4 linked regions of the Homo sapiens genome follow. The protein of the gene in region 2 interacts with the protein of the main gene of each other region in a pairwise test. Each region holds a gene or a part of one and is shown on either strand. Other genes may lie near its edges.

Region 1 (3,500 bases), on a different chromosome or scaffold from region 2:
CAGGTTGCATAAGGAGGGGTGAACCGGCCCAAGTTGGAAACAGAGCAGGTCAAAACTCCCATGCCGATGAGTAGTGGGATTGCACCTGTGAATACCCACTGCGCTTCAGCCTGGTGACATAGCAAGACCCCATCTCTAAAAAAAGAAAAGGAAAGAAAAAAAGAGGGTGCTGAGAAGACTTGCAGTAAAGGTGCCTGTTTACATAGCATTTGCTGAAGGACATTTCTCCAAAGAAAACATACAAATGGCCAACAGGCGTATGAAAAGGTGGTCCACATCACTAATCATCAGGGAAATGAAAATCAAAACCACAATGAGCTGTCACCTCACACCTGTTAGGATGGCTGTTCTCAAAAAGACAAAAGATAACAAGTGTTGGGAAGGATGTGGAGAAAAGGGAACCATCAGACACTATTGGTGGGAATATAAATTGGTATAGCTATTTTGGAATAACCAAAATATGGAGGTTCCTCAAAAAGTTAAAAATATTTTAGTACTAATATACGATCCAGTAATCCCTCTTCTGGGTATATATTCAGAGGAACTGAAATAAATATGTCAAAGAGATATCTGTTCTCTCTTGTTCATTCAATATTATTCACAATAGTCAAGATATGGAACCAGCCTAAGTGCCCATCTACAGATGAATGAAGACATTGTGGTGTGTGTGTGTGTGTGTGTGTGTGTGTGTGTGTGTATACCACAATGGAAAATTATTCTGCCTTAAAACAACAAAAACCAAAATCTTGCCAATCTTGCCATTTGCAATAACATGGATGAACCTGGAGGACATTATGCTAAGTGAAATAAGCCAGACACAGAAAGGCAAATACTGCATGATTTCACTTGTATGTGGGATCTAAAAAAAGTGAATCTCATAGAAACAGAGCAGAAAGGGGCTTACTAGGGGGTAGTGAATGGGGAAAATGGAGAGATATTGGTCCAAAGGGTACAAAATTTCAGTTATGTAGGATGTAGCAGTTCTAGAGATGGAATGTACAACATGATGGCTATAATGAATAACACTTGAAATGTACTAGGAGAATAGATCTTAATTGTTCTCACTATCACCACCACAACAAAAAAGGTAAGTAGGTGACAAGATTGATAATGTTAGTTGGCTTGACTCTAGTAATCAGTTCACTATGTATTTGTATATCAAGACATCATATTATATACCTTAAACATAAACAATTTTTATTAAAAAATTGAAAGTAAAATAAAATAAATAGCATTTGCCATGCTTATTTTTCCACAAAGGCTTTTTTCTTTTAACACCTAATTAAAATCCTGTGAAACTCATTTGGAAACCCCTGGCATAGTGGTTTTGAGCAAAGTTAAAGAGATCTTGTTTTAAATTCTATTCCTGCCACTTAATAACTGTGTGTCCCTGGGTAAGTTGTTACAATTTTATGAATCTTGGTTTCCTTGTCTGTCAAATGGCAGAGTAATACCTACTTCATCTAGTTGTTACCGGGGTTTAAGGAGATAATAAATGTAAAATGTTTAAACACTGTGGCTGGCATATAGGATTAACTTTTCAGAATAAGCAGCACTCTTAGTTTTTTTAGTCTAACTTTAAGTGTAACATAATGCTATTATAACCATTTTTAAGTATATAGTTTAGTAATGTTGTACATATTCATATTGTTGTCCAACGTATCTCTAAAACTTTTTTCCCCCAAAACTAAAACTCTGTACCCATTGAACAGCACCTCCCTGCTTCTCCCTTTTCACAATCCCTGGTACCACCTTTCTCCTTCCTGTGTCTGTGAATTTGACCATTGTAGGTACCTCACATGAGTAGTATAGTTGCTTTTATTACAGAAAGTGGGAGATGAGAGAATGCTTCACTTTTACATTTTTTCCAGTGGCCAGGCCCCAGTTTCAGTCATCACCAGTACCTTGTTGTGTTGTAGGCATCCCTAAAACTTCAACCAAAGGCAATGGGGTCTGCATTATAGACACTTAATAGCACAAGAGAAAAGGAAGAAGGAAATTGTGTTTGTCTTTTGATCATCAAGATAAATGCCTGGCACGTGGTAGATTCAAAGAGTGAATGAAATTTGTTTCCTCTGAACCATAGTCCTCAGCAGGTGGAATGGCAGTGGATGGTGTGAGGTTCCCACAATGCCCAGGTGTATCACCATCTAGCCGGGGAGCTGCCTTTCCTTATTCTGCAGCTGCTAGGCCATCAGCACTTTGTGGGGACTGCCCAAGCCCTAAGGGGAAATGTGGTAGTTTCAGCAGGTGGAGTTGATTCTCCTTTTCCAGGTATAATGGATCGGTGGAGATTTAGATAAGAAAAAGTAGCATTCAGCAGTAGAAAATGTACTACTCCTGGCTCTGCTATTGAGTCATTTAGTCAAATCACTTCATCTCTTTGGGTATCAGTTTTCTCATCTGTAAAATGGGCAGTTCAACCAGATTAGTAGTTTTTTTTTTTTTTTAATATTGAAAGCATTTATTAAGCAACAGAATTCTCTCTTTTTTTTTTTTTTCTTTAAGCGAGAAGTAGATGTGGGGAGGGGTTGTTGCATTTTTAAAGATTCCTGTATTAGGCCGGGTGCGGTGGCTCACGCCTGTAATCCCAACACTTTGGGAGGCCAAGGCAGGCAGATCACCTGAGGTCGGGAGTTCAAGACCAGCCTGACCAACATGGAGAAACCCCATCTCTACTAAAAATACAAAATTAGCCGGGCGTGGTGGCGCATGCCTGTAATCCCAGTCACTAGAGAGGCTGAGGCAGGAGAATTGCTTGAACCTGGGAGCCAGAGATTGTGGTGAGCCAAGATCGCAGCATTGCACTCCAGCCTGGGCAACAAGAGTGAAACTCCATCTCAAAAAAAAAAAAAAAAGATTCCTGTATTAGTCTGTTTTCACACTGCTGATAAAGACATACCTGAGACTGGGCAATTTACAAAAGAAAGAGGTTTAATTGGACTTACACTTCACGTGGCTGGGGAAGCCTCACAATCATGGTGGAAGGCAAGAAAGAGCAAGTCATGTCTTACATGAATGGCAGCAGGCAAAAGAGAGAAATTGTGCAGGGAAACTCCTGTTTTTAAAACCATTAGATCTCATGAGACCCATTCACTATCATGAGAACAGCACAGAAAAGACCCACCCCCATGATTCAATCATCTCCCACCGGGTCCCTCCCACAACACTTGGGAATTATGGGAGCTACAAGATGAGATTTGAGTGGGGACACAGAGCCAAACCACATCAGTCCCATTGGGAACAGTGTGGGAAAGAAATTGGAAGATGCACAAGTGGATGTGGAGGCACTCACTGCTCCAGGTAAGAGACAGGACATTGACTTAGCAAGACTTAACAGCAGGAGAGTGGAGAGAAAAGGGGGCCATGGAGAGAGATTTAGCGGGGAAAAGTCATTGAGGCCTGCTCATGGACTGGGCATGGGGAAAATGCAGAGGAAGATGTCAGGAGCAACTCCTAGTTGTTCACTTTACATGAAAGACTGTAGTGTTGATCCACTG
Region 2 (4,074 bases):
TGTATGTGTGACTCTGTCTCTAGTGCTCACAGCTATTCCTGCTACAGAGTAGAGTAGCTGCTCAGTAAATACTGGCTGAATAAATGATTGACCTATCAATCACTTGCTATTGTTTGCATGAATATAAGGATTCCATGCATCTTCTTGTTTCGTAGAATTGTCTTGGGGCTGCAGTTGATAAAGGAATCTACAATCAACTTTTTAACCCAGTCCAGAGTTGTTGTATGTACACTCGAGACCCAAAGGAAGGACAGAGAATTTTCCTCACCTCAGCCCAAAAGGAGGCTGGAATGCATGCTTGCCTGCCACAGTTTCCACTTACTTACCACCATCAGTCAGCAGGCTTTTAGGAGAGAATTGCACGTGTGATTTATTTGCAAATCCTTTCAGGTCCTGGAGGAGAGATACTTGGTACACAATGCACTTTGTCATCACGTGTCAACATCCCCTCAATGCAGGGAGCAGCACTACACGATGTAAAGGTGGAACTGGATTGTGCTGGGATCCTTCAATCAGCATTTCATTTAGAGCTGCAGCATTTGCAGAGCCATTTGCAATTGATGCCAGCCCCTTGGAGGGGGTCAGCGTGTAGAAGACAAAGGACAGCCATAAAGCCACTGAATGCAAACTTTATATTTACAGTCAGTAAGTTTATAAATATATATTACATTCTTACAATCTACAGTACATTCTACACGCAGATGGATTTGGAAGCGGGCAGCGGCTGCAGTATTCAACAGAACATGACACAGGTAAGAATGGAAAGAAATATGAGGACGTTACTGAAAGCAAAGGATTCTCATTGAAAAGGGGTGACAGCTTAATCACCCAACCAAACAAGGTAGGTAAGCTTGCGGACAGGAGCAGGTGACTTACTGGCTGCAGAAACCTCAGTCTCAAGAGCACCACAGTTGCAGGGGAGAGGGCTAAGGTTGGGAGGGTAAACTGGTGAAATTTACACACACATGATCTAAAGAGAATTCAATTCTATGGAGAGGAAGAAGGAGTAAAGACACACACTCAAAATTACAGAGATGAGATGGAGAGGAAGCAGGGAGAAGATAGGTTCAAAGGAGGAGAGAGATACAGAGACAGACACACAGAGAGACTGGAAAACAGACAACTGAAGAGCAGAGAGAGAGAGAAAATGACCAGAGGGAAAAATAGAAGATCAATTCAACAGCACGGCCTCTTCTGCCCACCACCCGCTGCCCCCGACCATCTTTTGCAGGATCCTATCTGGCTGGCAATCACCCAACACACCATTCTCTACCTTGGAGTGAGCGTGAGATGAGGCAGGAATTCTCTGATGTATCCTTGCCCCCATCTTCATAGGCTTCATAAGTGAAGGGATTCAGGGATATCCAGAGTCATGGCTGGTCTTAAGCAATGCTGAACCTTTCGGGGCTGACTGCAGGACCAAGTGCTTGCAAACCTGCATCTTCACCACATGCACTGATGCCCCTTATCCCTTCGCACCTCCAAGATGAAGAAGGTTTCTGTGCTGTCCGGTGTGTGTGAGGCTGGGCTTCCTGCTGGATCCACCACTTTCACACCCAGAACCCCCCCAACTCCACACGCCCTGCACGTTCCACACAGGCACCCCGATTTGTCTCAACAGCCTCGAGGCCACATCTTTGGACAGGAGATCTGCCATGAACAGTGAAAGACCCATCCCAAGTGGCCCTGTTTTCTTTCTAGTAAAGCAAGGGAATGTATATCCCCTGGTATGGAATTCACCGTGACTACCGCCCATGCCTAGAGACCAGCCTCTTCAAAGACGGACGGCGTGGGACATATGCCCAGGTTGCGGGGGGAGCTTCTCTACAGAATGTCACTTGGGAGTTGACACAAAACCCAGGGGGAGAAAAAAGACCCAGCAAATACTACAAACTGCCCTCTCCCTCCCCCACCCACAGGTGACCAACGGCTTTGGGGAGGATGGCAATGCAGTGGAGGAATAGAAATGGATACATTGTGAACTTGATATGAATCAAAAGAGCGTGGTTCTTTGAACCTGATTCAAATTCTATGCCCAGTATCCTTAGTTTACAAATAAAGAAGTACCCTGAAGGGCTCAGAGGATTTGCGTCCATGTGTTTGTCCTTGGCATGTAGTTACAAAGGTATTTGTGGCCTGTTAGCCCACATGTTCCCTTTCAGTCCTTGTCAGCCACTTCCTTGGCCTGTCCATGATCTGAGACAGCTCTGGCCCAGCCTTTGAGAGACAATGACTCACAATCATGCCTCCCACAGCTGACGGCGGCACTGGACTGCCTGTGATCGCGCTCACAGCAAGATGTGCTGCTCCAGTTTCGATGACACGCTTCCTCCCATTGATCCATGGATGCGATCCATGGATGCTCCACCTGAGTTGTACTTTTCTTCCATAGTCTGCAATATTGAATATTGGAGCCATGTGGATTTTACAATATCCAAATTGCTTTGATTCGAGAGAGAGAGGCTGTTCTTTCCTGGACGCTCTCAGACGCTCAGTGATTCAGAACTCGTTTTTGTTTCAAGTCTTAAAAATCTTGCCATGCATGATAAACCTCTTAAGCAAGACACTGTACTCTGGAATGTGTGCGTCGATGCGGACTCCAGGCCTCGCCGCCGAGCCGGGGTCATTGGCTGAGGCTGTATGGATAGTGTCATCCTTATTTTGTCCTGCTGCTTTGTTTCTCTTCCGGGGGCACCGTTGCTACACATCCTGGAATTAAAGGCTGAAAGGTGAGTGAGAACCAATGTCTGTGTGTGTCTGGCTTACACATTTTCATGTAACCTCTCCATGTAGTTGTGCAGCTCTTTGCAGTCCCCAGGGTCCAGATCCTGGCAGACCCACTTAATGTCATCCTCGCTACTCATCACGATGGAGTTCCTGGTGGGGTACTCGTCGTCTGAGGAGACGGCGGTGAAGGTGGTAAATTTTACCCTTTTCCTTTTTGAGGTAGGGGATGTTGGGGGCTCACTTTTCTGATCTTTCCCATCAATGATGATGGGTCCCAAAGGTTTGAACAGCTGCCCATTGATGCTTTTTTGGGAGTTTGTGCTGAGGAGATATTTACTTTCCTCGAAATCCATGCCCCTGTCAATGGCAGTGATTTGCTCATCTTGCGAGGAGGCAAAGTTGATGTGATTCTCCAACAGCTCTGTCCGGTTGCTTAACCCAACCCAGTCATGAGAGTGACTCATCCCTTCCTGCTCCTCGAAGGGAACCTGTTTGTGTCTGTATTTTAATGCAAAGGTCACACAGTTTATCAAGAAGACCAAAATGGCCAAACAGAAGACTCCCAACAAAGCATACATCCCAATTTCTAAGTCGCTCAGCCCTTTGGATGCCTGCATAAGGTCATTCCCATCCATTTCCCCATTGCTTCTGGGGAGGTCCACCTGGGCTGGGAAGCTGGTGAGGTCGCTGGGGATGGTCTGCAAGTGGCTGTTGTCATCTAAAAGGCTTTCCTGGCCTTTCTTCTTCTGCAGGATGGACCTGTCTGTCGTGGTGCCCCGTCCCTCCATGAGTCCCATAGAAGAACTGCCATAGTACTGTCCTTCCTGACTCCCCCATTCCTGCGAGGGTTTTTTGGGCCTTCTGTCACTGACATTGTTTTCCATGTGAACCCCTGCCCCTGTGTGTCTGCTGTCACTGGTGTTGGGGTTAGCATCGTTTTGGCCAAATTTAACTTTGATGTTTGCCGTTCCAACAGCTAACACACTCTTCCGCTTGGATTTCTGGCAGGATTCACTAATAACCATTTCCACCTTGACCAGGGTGCCTTGTCCTTCTGTTTCCGCAGCAATGATAGGCCACTTGAATTTGGGGTCTTGGTGGATGGAGACTACCTTCTCATCCAAAGATGTGGCCATCAAGGAGAAGTCTTTCCCATCGTAAATATCCAAGGGCGTGACTGAGCCATCACTGAACTGGACCCAGCAACTGATGGCTGCTTCCTATGGAGAAAAATATGTAAGTTAATCAAATGGGCCAAAAAGCTCATTGAGCCCCAAGTCTTAGTACAGTAGACACACAACGGCAAAACTATTGCTACAAGAACAAAGACAAACCTTTCAAACAGTG
Region 3 (3,500 bases), on a different chromosome or scaffold from region 2:
TATTAGTGGAGCACATCTAAGAGTGTATCACCAACAGAAAACTGAAAGGAGCATATGGCAGGAACAGAAATATACATTTGCCCAAATAATGTGGCTTGTTAACACTCCCACATTCATCCTAAACTCTGCGGACATGCATCTAACAGCATCACACACAGTCACTCCTTGCAGCAGAGAAGAAAAATAAAAGTCAAACAATGATTTCCTCACTATGGGATGATCAAATAATGCTAATGTGGACATTTTTATCAAAGATGATGGGATTTCAACTCAGTAATCTTGTGCATTCTGCTTCACTGTTGCTGGCATCCGGGCAGTGCTGTGTAAGGAGTTTAGAAAAATATGAGCTTTAGCATTTTTGTACAGCTTTTTGTGATAAAACAGGAACAATGAAAGGAAACATGAGGATCGAGCTCTTATGTAACACTGAGCTCAGGGGCAAAGAATCTTTTAGTTCAGAAAGCTCTTCTGAAGAATGTCTGTAGATGAGATTTAAGACCAGATTAAGATGAACTTTTTGAACACTGAGGCAGCTTTTACCCAGCATTGGCCAGAACCAAAGCTTATTTCAATTCAAATATGATCTATAAGATCCCTACTAATGAATTATTAAGCTGAATTTATCAATTTGCAGCTGTATTCTGAAACTCCTGCCCCCACTATGGGGCTGTAAAGGAGGAGGTGGGGTAATGCTACAGCACAGGAAGTGCCACTCCATTAGACATTTGGTTATAGAACTCCCTAGAGATGAGTGAGAATTGTAGGCATCATTGCCTGATTCTTTGACACCATTTTATATCTGAGGAAATCCTACCCTCACCAAGCTAGAAGACTTGCCAAAGTTACCAGAACCAGGACTGAAAACAGATGTTCTGTTTCCCAATACAATGTTATTTTTACCGCCCCCCACCAATATTCCTTTCATTTTAAAGTAGATTCTTTTTATAGTTTCATGGCTCTTGACATATTAGAATCTAGGCTTATATATTTGTATTCACCATCATTTTACATTCACCTACTTAACTTTACAAGGAAGCCATATCCATTCTTTGATATGTTAGCACTGGGATTGGTGGTGGTATGGCAAGCCTGGCATTTATGTTAGAATGGAATTGTGGATGGAGAAAAAGGGTGCTTAAGAGCTTTCAGAAAAGTGCTATTTTTTAAACAAAATTATTCTAGAGCAAGAGGACCTCAATTTAGAGAATAACAAAAAACAAAAACATAAGTTGCCTGAGGCTTCAGCTACTCAAAGTGGGTAAAAATGCCTTTGGCACTCTTATGTATGTTTTCTCCTTTGGCAATTCTATTGAATTTCTTGGTTTTAATTATCACCTCCAGGAAGAAAAAAAAATAACCTTCCAGAACTATACCTTCAACTATCATCACTTAAGTGCCTAACTCTTATTTTCGACTATCCCCTGAACACCTTCTCCAGGATCTTCCCAGGCTGCTCAAGTACAAACTGTTCACAGGGAAATCATCTTTGTCTCCACTGGTTACCATTTGGTTACCATTTACCATTTAGTCTATTGTCGTCATCGTCCTGTGGGACAGGCACAAAAATTATGATACCAGCTCTTCTCCTCAGGTCCCATTGCCAATTTCCATTGATTGTACTGCCATCTGGGCCCCATCTCTGTCTTTTCTCCTGCTGACACCAATTGAAATGTTCCTGGATCCATTCAGCTGAAAGTATTTTCTTCCTACCCTGAACTCCTGAAGATCTTATTCCAAACCTTTCTTATGGAACATGCTTGTTAATTAATCAAACAGTATTTGTTGAGCATATAATACACATCAGGCATTATACCTAGGCACTTTGCACACATTTTCATTCCCTCCAACCAGCCCTGAAAGACTTGGATTTTTTTTTTCTTTTTTTTTTTTTTTTTTTTTTTTTTGAGACAAGATCTTGCTCTGTCATCCAGGCTGGCGTGCAGTGGCGGAATCACGGCTCACTGCAGCATCCATCTCCTAGGTTCAAGCAATCCTCAAACCTCAGCCTCCAAGTAGCTGGGGCCAAAGACATGAACCAATATGCCCAGCTAATTTTTTCATTTTTTGTAGAGATGGGAGTCTCCCTATGTTGCCCAAGCTGGTCTTGAACTCCTGGGCTCAAGCAATCCTCCTCCCTGAGGCTCCCAAAGCACTGGGGTTACAGGTGTGAGCCACAATGCCCAGCCTGGAAAACTTTAAAAATGTCTATGAATATTGATGCCAGTGCCCCACCACCTGAGATCCAGATTTAACAGGTCTCAGGTACAGCCGGGACAGGGGGACTTTTCAAGACTTGCTGGTTTATTCCAATGTGTAGCCATGGTTGAGAACCACTGGTGTAACTGCAAACCCATTTGCCAGATATTCTCAGGTAGTTAGTATCACCTCTGAAGCTTTAAAATGCAAACAAATGCTGGACTGTAACCCAATCCTATCAAATTAGAACTCTGGGGGATAGAGTCTGGGAATTCACATGTTAACAAAGCTTCGCAAGTGACTCTGTCACATAACCAGGATCAAAACCCCCTTTCTTGATCAGATACTGAATCATCTCCCTCTTATGGCAATATTAGAAATAATTATAGATGTCTTCCCCCAACTTACAGTCTGTAAACTCTTTGAGGACAGATTTACATTTGATTTACCTTGGTCAGCTTCCTGGCACCTAGCAAGGTCCCTCATAGATTATGTGTCTTAGAAACTAAAGAACCAGGAAAATACCTTTTGTTAACTTTATTCAGAAAAAAAGAACTGCCAGGCACAGTAATCCCAGCACTTTGGGAGGCCGAGGTGGGCATATCAATTGAGGTCAGGAGTTCAGGACCAGCCTGGCCAACATGGTAAAACCCAGTCTCTACTAAAAATACAAAAATTAGCTGTGCATGGTGGTGCATGCCTGTAATCCCAGCAACTCGGGAGGCTGAGGCAGGAGAACTGCTTGAACCTGGGAGACGGTGGTTGCAGTGAGCCGAGATCACACCACCGCACTCCAGCCTGGACTACAGAGTGAGTAAGACTCCATCTCAAAACAAAACAAAACAAAAAATCTTTGCAACACACTTATTTTTTTGTACTAGGTTTTAAATCTTTGATATACTAACCTGGAAACAAAGCAAGTCATTTCAATTGTCTTAGTATCACAGTTGTGCGGCTATTAAGTGCCAGAGCTAGGATTTGAACCCAGGCCATCTTGACAATATTCTTTTCTGTACATCTCAGGCCTTAAAGGCAACTATAAAATGAAAAATTCAGCGATCTACATGTTTGGATACATGCTGTCAGACTTGTTTCTGAAATTTGAACATAACCTGTCACCTGAGGAAAAAAAGCTCTGTTGGCATTATGAAATGAATTTGGAAAAAAATATGTTAATTTAAACCTAAAAATTGTGGGATCTAACAGATATCCCTTTCTTCTCTTCAATTCCACCCTCCCTCAAACCCACACATACACACAGACAGACAAACACACCCTCTGATTGTTCTTTGACATTTCTTGAC
Region 4 (3,500 bases), on a different chromosome or scaffold from region 2:
GAGTAGCCAGAGGAGAAAGAAGTAGGGAGAGTGTTTTGTTTTGTTCTCTTTTGTCATTTAAACATAAGAGACAGGCTTGAGAATATTTATAAACTGAGGGAAAAGCAAAGAGGGAAAGAAGGAGACAGGGAAGCAATGGTGATGACTTTATCTGAAAATGAAGGCCTCTGTCCTCGCACTGGCTGGGACACACAGGGAGCGTTTCTTTTAGTCAGCAGCATTTCCTGCCAGCATGGCAGCCTCCGGGCAAACTCAGAGGTGGAGGAAAAGTGCAGTCCTAGCAGGTTGTTCTCGGAGCCCTCTCATAATGGGCTGCTCCTCTTCAGCAACCTTCCCGCAGGATGCTCTCATCACTTGTCAGAGGGCCATTTGGCACCTAAACCCCTGAGCTGTCCAAATTGCCAGGAGCTCCACAGGTCTCTTCAGTTTCCTCCCACAGCAGTGGAGGTGCAAGGGGAAGCCAGATCCCCAGGGGCCTCTCCCCTTGTAAGCCCCTTCCAGCAGCCCAGCACAAGAGTGGGAATAGGGAACAACCTCTCTTTCCCACTTCCTCCCTGCTAGAAACATAGCACAGAAATCTTCAAGCCACTCCAGAATCCTGCCAAAGATAGGACTGTGTTCTCTCCTGATAACTTGCATCTGATTAGCAAATGAAGTCTATAGAAGTTATGGCTAAGACTAATTGAAAGCATGCTGTGTGCCAGGCACGATTCTCAGTGCTTTACATTCTCTCATTCCTCACAACCCTATTTTTATCATCCCTATGTTACCAATGAGGAAACTGAGTGCAGACACATCTAAGTCATTTGCTCAAGGTCGCAGCGTCAGTGACCGCCATTGCAGGACATGAAACAGGCCAGGCTGTCAGACTCCAGAGCCGGCACTGCTGCAACTTATTTTCAAACACCATCACAAAATGTACTATACAATAAACCATAAAAGTCAGGGAAGAATTCATAATATCACTAGTTAAAAATCAAATGCATAAATAAAGGATTGCAGTCACTTTACCACAGTTTCAAGAGAGATCTTGAGATCTCTCCCCCCAGCCCCATGACAGCACATTTAAAAGAGTATTTATCTTGTAAATATAATTAATGCTACTGAATTGCACACTTTAAGAACGGTTAAAATGGTACAATTTTTGTTGTGTATATTTTACCACAATAAAAATAATACAAAAGAGGCCGGGCACAGTGACTCACGCTGTAATCCCAGCAACTTGGGAGGCTGAGGCAGGCGGGTTACTTCAGACCAGGAGTTTGTGACCAGCCTGGCCAACATGGTGAAACCCTGTTTCTATCAAAAAATACAAAAATTAGCCAGGCCTGTAATACTAGCTACTCGGGAGGCTGAGGCAGGAGAACTGCTTGGACCTAGGAGGCAGAGGCTGCAGTGAACTGAGATGGCGCCACTGCAATCTAGCCCAGGCAACAGAGCAAGACTCTTACAAAAAAAAAAAAAAATATATATATATATATATATATATATATATATATATAAAGAGGCCAGGCACAGTGGCTCACGCCTGTAATCCCAACACATTGGGAAGCCAAGGCCGGAGCATCGCTGAGCGGAGGAGTTCAAGAGCAGCTTGGGCAACATAGTGAGACCCCCATTTCTTAAAAATAAAAAAAGAAAAAAAAAATTAGGCAGGCATGATGGTTTGCACCTATAGACCCAGCTACTCAGGAGGCTGATGTGGGAAGATCACTTGAGCCCAAGAGTTCGAGGCTGCAGTGAGGTATGATTGCACCACTGCACTCTAGCCTGGGTGACAGAGTGAGACCCTTTATCAAAAAAAAAAAAATACAAAATACAAAAGAACATTTCTATATACATTTTTCTATTTATTAAAAAAGAAAGTGAAATGAAATGAAAATCAAAGCCCTGTCTTGAGACAAAGCATTTCAGACATCATTTAGTATTTTAAAAACAACAACAAACAAACTAATCAAGATCAAAGAACCCACTGCAGCAGCAAGGCAGCCTGGTATAAAGGTCTGGGAGATCAGAACACACTCAGTGCTCCGGCTCCCTTACCCTAGCGCCAGCGAAGGTACCACTGTCCTCAAACTGCCTCTAGGATATCTATAAAAACCAATTCTAACCCCCAAACCATAGAAATCCACAGAAACTCTGAGAGCACAGAGCAAAGTGGGAATGCCCAGGGCTATTTACAATCTCATTTTACAAGAGGCTGTTGCTCCTTAAAGACCTGGCCATATGTGCTATTACCTGGACCTGAGTAAAACGCACCTGAATGGATAAACAATGCCTCACAGGAGAGAAATAAAGCATTCAAAGGAACCCTCTGTCAAACCATGTCCAGGATTCTAGAACTCAAATTCTTCGTGTTGACTAAGATGGCAATTTGTTACTTTTAGGTCATTCTAAATGACCACCCGGGACAAAAGTGAAGCAATGCTGAGAAATCTAGTATAAAACTACATAAAGAAAGGTGCATCCTGCAAAAACCCTAAGAAAATCAAACAAACTCCTGCTGAGGCAGGAGTCTAGGGTTTCTCAGAAGAAATTCAGCAAAGATAACAACATTGCTGGAATCACCTAATTCAAATACAGAAATTAGTACTTCAATGACTACAATTCTTTGAATGAGAAGTTCATTGAGGCTGCTCCATTCCATTACGGATGGCCAAGTAAACACTTATATGATTCACTTTCATTCCCTGTTTAGCAAATCTAGGTAATATTATTAACACCCCCAACAAATAAACTAAGTTTTCAACTGGCATAGCTTTAAGTGCCCCTTATACTTCTAAAGGTAGGGGTACCTACTTTTGGGGGCTCAACTCACCCCCAAATTCCTTCTTTAGAGAGGTAAGGAACAAAGATTAACAAGGCTGAAGAGTATAAACAGGTCGGAAAGCCTCCAAAAAGACAGAAATATTTGAAATCTACTAAGACAAGGATATCAATGTCTGGAAGAAGGAATTTAATAATTTCCAACATTTTTAACCCCTCTGTAAATATAAAGCTCCCTCCCATCGATTTTACATCATTTCCAGGTCATGAATAAACTTATGAACCAGAATACTCCTAAGAGCATTACAATTTCTCCACTGACGTTTTAAAACACAAGAACAACAATACAATAAAGAGAAAACTTTATTTTTAGGTTTGCAAAATCCTGTGTTTATTTTTCTAAAACTGAAGTCAAACAACTGAACCTGCTTTGTTTGGATTTTAGTAAACTTATTCTCTCTTAATCCTGGGGGACCAAACTCTGCCCAGAAGGAAATGAAGAAAAAGTCCTCCGTGCCCGTGCCATGCTGGAAAGTTAAAACACGGTGCCTCCTTTGGTTTTCTGTTCAGGCACATCTGAGCCTCCTGCTGCTGGTCACGGTTCACACTGCTGGAGTCATATCATATGACACCTGCCGTATGGCGGGTAGAAGCAAAGGCTGTCAACTGGCATTCATGTTGAAACTGGTTCAGTGTTTGAACTGCTAACTTCTGCGTGTAATGTTTAAGCAAAA

The links. The genes of interacting proteins can lie anywhere in the genome.
Region 1: the proteins of TMEM132D (region 2) and PGM1 interact in a two-hybrid assay, tested with the Homo sapiens proteins (one large-scale study listed by BioGRID).
Region 3: the proteins of TMEM132D (region 2) and NPAS3 interact in a two-hybrid assay, tested with the Homo sapiens proteins (one large-scale study listed by BioGRID).
Region 4: the proteins of TMEM132D (region 2) and STK39 interact in a two-hybrid assay, tested with the Homo sapiens proteins (one large-scale study listed by BioGRID).

What each region holds. Positions count from the first base shown.
Region 1 is NC_000001.11:63,655,911-63,659,410, forward strand, and holds part of PGM1 (phosphoglucomutase-1), read left to right. Parts: intron 1-3,500. UniProt on the Homo sapiens protein: Catalyzes the reversible isomerization of alpha-D-glucose 1-phosphate to alpha-D-glucose 6-phosphate. The mechanism proceeds via the intermediate compound alpha-D-glucose 1,6-bisphosphate.
Region 2 is NC_000012.12:129,071,113-129,075,186, forward strand, and holds the end of TMEM132D (transmembrane protein 132D precursor), read right to left. Parts: intron 3,964-4,074; exon of another isoform or gene 3,948-3,963; coding exon 2,763-3,947; 3' UTR 614-2,762; downstream 1-613. UniProt on the Homo sapiens protein: Regulate neuronals morphology via inhibition of the WAVE regulatory complex (WCR), a complex that controls F-actin cytoskeletal dynamics.
Region 3 is NC_000014.9:33,767,879-33,771,378, forward strand, and holds part of NPAS3 (neuronal PAS domain-containing protein 3), read left to right. Parts: intron 1-3,500.
Region 4 is NC_000002.12:168,241,096-168,244,595, forward strand, and holds part of STK39 (STE20/SPS1-related proline-alanine-rich protein kinase), read right to left. Parts: intron 1-3,500. UniProt on the Homo sapiens protein: Effector serine/threonine-protein kinase component of the WNK-SPAK/OSR1 kinase cascade, which is involved in various processes, such as ion transport, response to hypertonic stress and blood pressure.